Linked DNA regions of Homo sapiens. The protein of the gene in region 1 purifies or fractionates together with the protein of each later gene. This does not show direct contact. Each region holds a gene or a part of one and is shown on either strand. Other genes may lie near its edges. The genes, in order: EIF2AK4 and PGM2L1.

Region 1 (3,824 bases):
GAAGAGATAATTGACAAGGATTATTAAACAAATGGTCAAGATAAGTTATAAAAACCTCATTTCCCCTGAGATCATATTGCTAGACACCCCTTTCTGAGTGGATTAAGAGCAAATCTTCTTTTTTTTTTTTGAGACAGAGTCTCACTCTGTCACCCAGGCTGGAGTGCAGTGGTGCAACATCAGCTCACCACAACCTCTGCCTCCCATGTTCAAGCGATTCTCCTGCCTCAGCCTCCCGAATAGCTAGTATTATAAGCGCCGGCCACCATGCCCTGCTAATTTTTCTATTTTCAGTAGAGACGGGGTTTCACCATGTTGGCCAAGCTGGTCTCAAACTCCTGACCTCAGGTGATCCCCCAGCCTTGGCCTCCCAAAGTGCTGGGATTACGGGCATGAGCCATCGTACCCAGCCAAGGGCAAACCTTTAGACACCATTTGGAATCCTTTCTAGGCTTTGGTATGTAACCCTGTGATTGTATCCTGGGATAGGAAATAAGATGGCAAGAAAGATGGCTTGGTTTAACATGTTCTGAATTCCATTTTCTTACTATTTAGGTACAAACTCGACTTCAGACCTCCCTTGCCAACTTACATCAGAAAAGCAGTGAAATTGAAATTCTGGCTGTAAGTGGCTTTCTTTAGTATTTTGAAGGTGGCTTCTGTCCATACTGTCAAAGTAGTTGCCTCAGGGTTCAGAGCTTTTTTGCTCAGTGTCAGCAGAATTTGGATGCAGGCCTTATTGTGATGTGAACTACACGCAATTTAAAACTATTAAGAACTAGGGGGAGAATTTAAGGTTTTTTGTTTCTCCTCTTTGTTCCTCTTTAAGATAGAGGAAAATGAAAACAAAAGTCATTTTCCTACATATATCAGGCCTTTGCCTTGCTAAGCTTACACCGAATACATGTAGCAGCGTCAGACCTTTCGGGTGTGGTGTAGAGGGACAGGGAGTACAGTTTCCACTGCTTATTAATTCTCCAGGGCTAAGATCTTATCACTGCACAGTTCATTAAGCCCTTTTACAGCACAATAGCATCTCAGACTCTGCAAACCCTATTCATACTGCTGCATTTCACGTGACACTATGGTCACAAGGCAGTATTGTGCTGCTGAGAGTTGATGTACATTTGTGTGTATTCACAGGTGGATCTACCCAAAGAAACAATATTACAGTTTTTATCATTAGAGGTAAGCAATATGAACTCTTCTGCACTGTGGCCTTTAAGATCCCAAATCTTTGCTATTAGTTTGCCAAAATACTGAAGACGGCATTCATTAGTGATAGTATTTTTCTGGCAGCTGCAGGAATTTAGTAACATTTTTCCTTTTATGTAACATATATGTTCCTAAATCCTATGTTGAAGGACTCATACTTTTCTAGTGACTTTATTTTTCAGATACTTATTTTATTAAAAACAAAAAACAAAAACAAAAAAACACATATACTGCTTTTACTATGTGTCAGGGTCTGGCAGGCCTTGTTGTAAGCATTTTACAAGTAGTAACTCATTTAATCATTACCACCCCAAAATGTAGATACTGTTATTATCCCTTTACAGAGTACGGAAGTAGAGAGGTTAAATATCTTACCCACAGTCACCCAGCTAGTAAGTAGTAGAACCAGGATTTGAACCTAAGCAGACTAGCAGAATCGGTGTTCTTAACCACTATACTATACTATCTCTCAAACCTCCATTCCAGCTAGGGAAGCTCATTTGCAGATTAGTACTATACAAAACAAAATCCTTTTGTAAAAATTAATTAGGTCCTTTATAAATATATATATATTTTTACAGGTACATCCCTTTATCATCAAATAGCCTAAATAAGAACTTTAAAAATTTGAATAGTTATCTTTGCTATTAAGAACACTCAACTATAGTCATAGCTACAGGTGACTTTTGCAACATGTCATATCAAAGAATACTTTTTTGTCTATCCAGAGTGTTTAGTCACAAATTAAATTAGATTAATAGTGAACTTAGCCCTAGAACTAGTATTTTATATATCATTTTTTGTTCTCTTACAAATAAGCATATACCACTATCTCACTGGCAGTGTACTGATTTATGATCCAGTCAAATGGATATACTTAAGAGCTGCTATCACCGTTGTACAAAAAGTAAACAGAGGCCGGGTGCAGTGGCTCACGCCTGTAATCCCAGCACTTTGGGAGGCCGACGTGGGTGGATCACCTGAGGTCTGGGGTTTGAGACCAGCCTGGCCAACATGGTGAAACCCCATCTCTACTAAAAATACAAAAAATTAGCCGGGCGTAGTGGCAGGCGCCTGTAATCCCAGCTACTTGGGAGGCTGAGGCAGAAGAATTACTTGAACCCAGGAGGTGGAGGTTGCAGTGAGCCGAGATTGTGCCACTGCACTCCAGCCTGGGCAACAAGACCGAAACTCCATCTCAAAAAAAAAAAAAAAAAAAGTAAACGGTAGGCAGAAATAACTGCTCTAAAGTCACATCAGCACACTAGGGCTGCAGCATTGTTAATCAGGCTCTAATTAGGGAGTCTTGTTTTAAGGAAAACTGGTGCTTCAGAGGAACCCCAGCAGTCTCCTAACTGGTTCTGCTATCTCCCTATTACTGATTCTCCTGGTATACTTGAAGAGGGAAATGACACTGGAATTTCATTAGTGACCCAGAAAAAACCAGCTAGTAAACCCTAGAGACCTGTTGTTAAGTCTTATCTATTTTTTTCCTAGTGGGATGCTGATGAACAGGCATTTAACACAACTGTGAAGCAGCTGCTGTCACGCCTGCCAAAGCAAAGATACCTCAAATTAGTCTGTGATGAAATTTATAACATCAAAGTAGAAAAAAAGTAAGTTATCACTTGGGCATAGCAGGGTTCACATGGTTAAAATTCAGGGCGGGGGGTTTCAGAGTGACATTATTTTGTTGTCTTGTTGAGGTTTGACGCCTGGTAAGCTGTTCTTAGAATTGCAGCTGACAACCAATAAATCTTGCTTGGACTGTGAATCACAGTCATGATCTCATCAATAACAAAACACAGGGGTCCTAGGAGTAGCTGTCCCAATTACAATTTTGTTCACCCAGGTAATTCACTTTCTAAGTATGTTTAAATCAAAGAAAATAACCATGACTACTTTGCTGTATGTCCTTATGTCATAATGCCAATCAATCAATCAATCATTCATGTTATCATACACTTAAAAGGCAACAAGGAAGCCTATGAGGTGAATGGTTATCTCCTTACTAGGACCTTATACTGCAGACCCCTGTCAGTCACACCTTGTATAAAACCTATATAATTTTTTAATGACTAGCCTTCCATCTTGTTTTTGCTTAAATAAAGCTCCTACAGGTGTTATAAAAATTTATTAGCTCTGTTCTTCACTCATTAAACTGAGTCTGTCCTTATATCTTTTCTTTTCTTTTGCAGGGTGTCTGTGCTATTTCTGTACAGCTATAGAGATGACTACTACAGAATCTTATTTTAACCCTAAAGAACTGTCGTTAACCTCATTCAAACAGACAGAGGCTTATACTGGAATAATGGAATGTTGTACATTCATCATAATTTAAAATTAAATTCTAAGAAGAGGCTGGGTGCAGTGGCTCACACCTTTAATCCCAGCACTTTGGGAAGCCAAGGCAGGAAGACTGCTTGAAACCAGGAGTTTGAGACCAGCCTGAGCAACAAAGCAAGACCCCATCTCTATAAAAACTAAAAAAATTAGTTGGGCATGGTGGCACATGCCTGTAGTCCCAGCTACTCCAGAGGCTGAGATGGATCATCTGAGCCTCAGGAGGTTGAGGCTGCAGTGAGCTGTGACTGCGCCACTGCACTCCA
Region 2 (3,824 bases), on another chromosome or scaffold:
TGAAAATAATGAAAAGATAAGAAAAGAACATAAATTTCCTGTAAATCCATTATCCCAAAATAACCACCTAAGTTGATACTTTGATAATTCTTTCCTGTCTTTTAAATTGAAATATTTAAAGATGTATTTGTTTTTATTAAATTATGATCATAGTTTTATATCTTGATTATTTTCCACATTAATTGTACAAAATGCTTCAAAAACTGCTTACAGTGTAATGGTTAAGTATAATGCTTACAGTGTAAGCATTTTCCCCTGACTTTATACATTTTTTGAAAATATTAATTTTTACAAAGACATAATATCCCAACAGATCGCTTTATGATGTAGTTATTTCCTAACCTTTTTTTTTGTTTGTTTGCTTTTTTTTTTTTTTTTTTTTTTTTTTGGAGACATAGTTTCGCTCTTGTTGCTTAGGCTGGAGTGGAGTGCAATGGTGCTATCTTGGCTCACTGCAGCCTCTGCCTCCCAGGTTCAAGCTATTCTCCTGCCTCAGCCTCCTAAGTAGCTGGGACTACAGGCATGTGCCACCATGCCTGGCTAATTTTGTATTTTTAGTAGAGACAGGGTTTTGCCATGTTGGTCAGGCTGGTCTCGAACTCCTGACCTCAGGTGATCCTCCCACCTTGGCCCCCCAAAGTGCTGCGATTACAGGCATGAGCCACCTATTTCCTAATCTTAGTCCTCTGGGCTGCTATGTATTTTTACCATTATAATGTGACAAATGTCCTTAAATAGAAAGGCTTAATTATTTATCATAATTTTTTCTCTCATTAAGTAAAAGAATAAATGTAATGATATAATAATTTTCCAAAAGACGTTGTACCATTCCTACCGTAAAATCACCCCTGGTCAGTTAGAAAAGAAGTAGTAATAAATGTTTTCTCAAAAATCCCATATGATAGTTTTTGATTTTTCCTAACTGAAGGATGGTAATTTTTAGGCCTTGGAGTCAAGAAGTTTTAATGAGAAGAAAGGTCTTGACATTGTATTTTCCTTCTCTCTACAGTGGTTGTTGGAAAGTTTTCACAGGGAATGAGTTGGCAGCTTTGTTTGGATGGTGGATGTTTGATTGCTGGAAGAAAAATAAATCAAGAAATGCTGATGTGAAGAACGTTTATATGTTAGCCACCACAGTCTCTTCTAAAATTCTGAAGGCAATTGCACTTAAAGAAGGATTTCATTTTGAAGTAAGAATCAATAATATCTGTGTGCTACTTTTTAAAACCTATTTCTGTATGTTAAAGACATCTCCCCACCAAGACTGACTTTCATTGATTTCATTTGTAATTCCCTTATTTTTCTAATTCTGTTAACACTTGTTCAGTCTCTTTTGATAATTTAGACACCTTGAGCCAAAATTCATCCAGTACCGTATATGAATTTCTGGGACTAAGATGAGATATTCTTTAAAAATTACATTAATACTTATTATTCTGTACAACAAATATCTGGTTTTCAGACAGGGAAAATATAGCTCCTGGTGACCCCATCAGTAACTCAGACTTCTCTCCAAAAAGTTGTAGGTGTCATCAACCCCTTGTTCAGGCTCTTCAAGCATGGTCTTAAGGAACTTCAAGTAGTCTTCTAAATTGCATAGTAAACCCAATGATCCTACATCCAAAAAAACAAGCAGTGGCTCTCTCTCAGCCCAGATCATTAACCTTATGACCTTAAGACCCTTAAGCTGACCATTTTTGCAGCCATGTTAACTAAATTGCTTTTTCTCTGCCATCTTTGCCAAATATCAGTGAAAATGTCCCTGGACATTTTTCTTGAGCCATAGTCAGGCTACAGGTCTTAACACTAATTTACTGAGTAAAAGAAAATTGTACCTGGCTTTATGAAATAGAGCTTTCAACCTTATGCTTTCTAAAACACAAATAGCAAAATAGAAGATACTGAAAGTTGATTCACACCTAAGATTCTGATGTTTTCCTAGTTTATGTCTATAGCAAGAAGAAGTATAATGGGCACAAAAGAGAAAGAAGAACAATTCTAAAGACCACTATTATAATTTTATTTGCTTGTTTTTGTTGTAGCAGGGAGGTTTTTGACTTTTTAATTTTTATTTTGTAGTAAGGAGGTAGAAAGGTGAATTAGGAAACAAGTTAGTAATGGTGAGCTTTAGTATTAGGGTGTATCACATACTCTTTCTGTTGACTCTGAAACTCTTTCTGTGTCTTTAAAGTGAACAGTAGCTCATTAGATGAAAAGTCCTCAAATCTAATTATTTAAAGAAGTAGTTAGTAACTGTCTTGGTGGTTTTATTAATAGTTAGGACACAGTGTTATGAGAAGGTACACTTGGTTCAAGCTTATGTTATGCTAATATTAAAAGTGCATCACTAAAAAGCTTCATGACCTTTCATTGATTACTCAGGGAGAGTAAATCCACCAACTTTCATAGGCACTCTTATATTAGTGGTTGTAATATAGCTTAAAGGACAGTTTCTGAGAAGCAGAAACTTGAAATTGAATCTTGACTCCATCTCTTATATGCAGTATAATTTTGGGCAGATTGACTTATCTTTCAAGGCTGTGTTTCAGCGACAGCGTTTTTGAGCATTAAAAAAAGATAATGGGGCCAGACGTGGTGGCTCACGCCTGTAATCCCAGCACTTTGGGAGGCTGAGGCAGGTGGATCACAAGGTCAGGAGTTCAAGACCAGCCTGACCAACATGGTGAAACCCCGTCTCTACTAAAAATACAAAAATTAGCTGGGCGTGGTGGCACACCTGTAATCCTAGCTACTTAGGAGGCTGAGACAGGAGAATTGCTTGAACCTGGGAGACGGAGGTTGCAGTGAGCTGAAATTGCGCCACTGCACTCCAGCCTGGGTGACAGAGCGAGACTCCGTCTCAAAAAAAAAAAAAAAAAAAAAAAAAAAGATAATGTAAAGCACCTGGTTCAGTCCTTAATAGTAGGTGATTATACTGATTATACTGTATGTGCTTATTCATGTTACTTTGTGACTACATGAAGCACCACTTATAAATGCTGGTTTATATTTGGTGTAAATCACCTAGTACTATAATCTGTAAATAGTAGGTCATTAGTAGTAGCAGTGTGTGTATTTATGGCCCTTCATTACTATATGTCTGCTACTGTATAAATCTTTGTGGACTGAAGACTATAGTAAGGATCATTATATGAACGTTGTGTGCATGTAGTGGCAGATTTTTCTCTAATAGGTATTTGTGAGACAGTCACTTAACTAGAGTGGCCTCCTCTGCATTTCAGGAAACATTACCAGGTTTTAAATGGATTGGAAGTAGGATAATAGACCTCCTGGAAAATGGGAAAGAAGTCCTTTTTGCATTTGAAGAGTCTATTGGTATGTAGTAAATATTAAAATCTTCAAAATTTGATTGATAATTTTTAAAATGTAATTCTGTAGGAGGAGTTTTTTGTGTTCTGGTTTCATATTTTGAGTTGTAAAAACTACAGAGAATGAGAAATATGTAGATACATTTCTTATCAGAAAAAAAAAAGAACGAAAGTGTCCCCTAAATACACTCAGTATTGATGAGTTTCATCTATTACTAGGCTTTTAAATTTCCTGGTCCTTCTGAAGAAATGTAAAACTATTGAAATTATAGCCTTAAGTTTTCCTCTTTTCTAGTGATGGTTTTCAATCCTCAGGTTTTCTCTGTGGAACTTCAGTTTTGGATAAAGATGGGGTGAGTGCAGCTGTTGTGGTTGCTGAGATGGCATCTTACCTGGAAACCATGAATATAACATTGAAACAGCAACTGGTTAAGGTTTATGAAAAGTAAGTTCTACTATTATGAATTTCACATGCTAGATTTTTCTTTTATTGTC

Evidence for each region.
Region 2: the proteins of EIF2AK4 (region 1) and PGM2L1 purify together in Homo sapiens (affinity purification with mass spectrometry; one large-scale study listed by BioGRID and IntAct). This does not show direct contact.

Annotation. Positions count from the first base shown.
Region 1 is NC_000015.10:40,031,614-40,035,437, forward strand, and holds part of EIF2AK4 (eIF-2-alpha kinase GCN2), read left to right. Parts: intron 1-555; coding exon 556-624; intron 625-1,143; coding exon 1,144-1,188; intron 1,189-2,712; coding exon 2,713-2,831; intron 2,832-3,413; coding exon 3,414-3,471; 3' UTR 3,472-3,824. UniProt on the Homo sapiens protein: Metabolic-stress sensing protein kinase that phosphorylates the alpha subunit of eukaryotic translation initiation factor 2 (EIF2S1/eIF-2-alpha) in response to low amino acid availability.
Region 2 is NC_000011.10:74,342,835-74,346,658, reverse strand, and holds part of PGM2L1 (glucose 1,6-bisphosphate synthase), read left to right. Parts: intron 1-1,009; coding exon 1,010-1,190; intron 1,191-3,242; coding exon 3,243-3,336; intron 3,337-3,644; coding exon 3,645-3,774; intron 3,775-3,824. UniProt on the Homo sapiens protein: Glucose 1,6-bisphosphate synthase using 1,3-bisphosphoglycerate as a phosphate donor and a series of 1-phosphate sugars, including glucose 1-phosphate, mannose 1-phosphate, ribose 1-phosphate and deoxyribose 1-phosphate, as acceptors.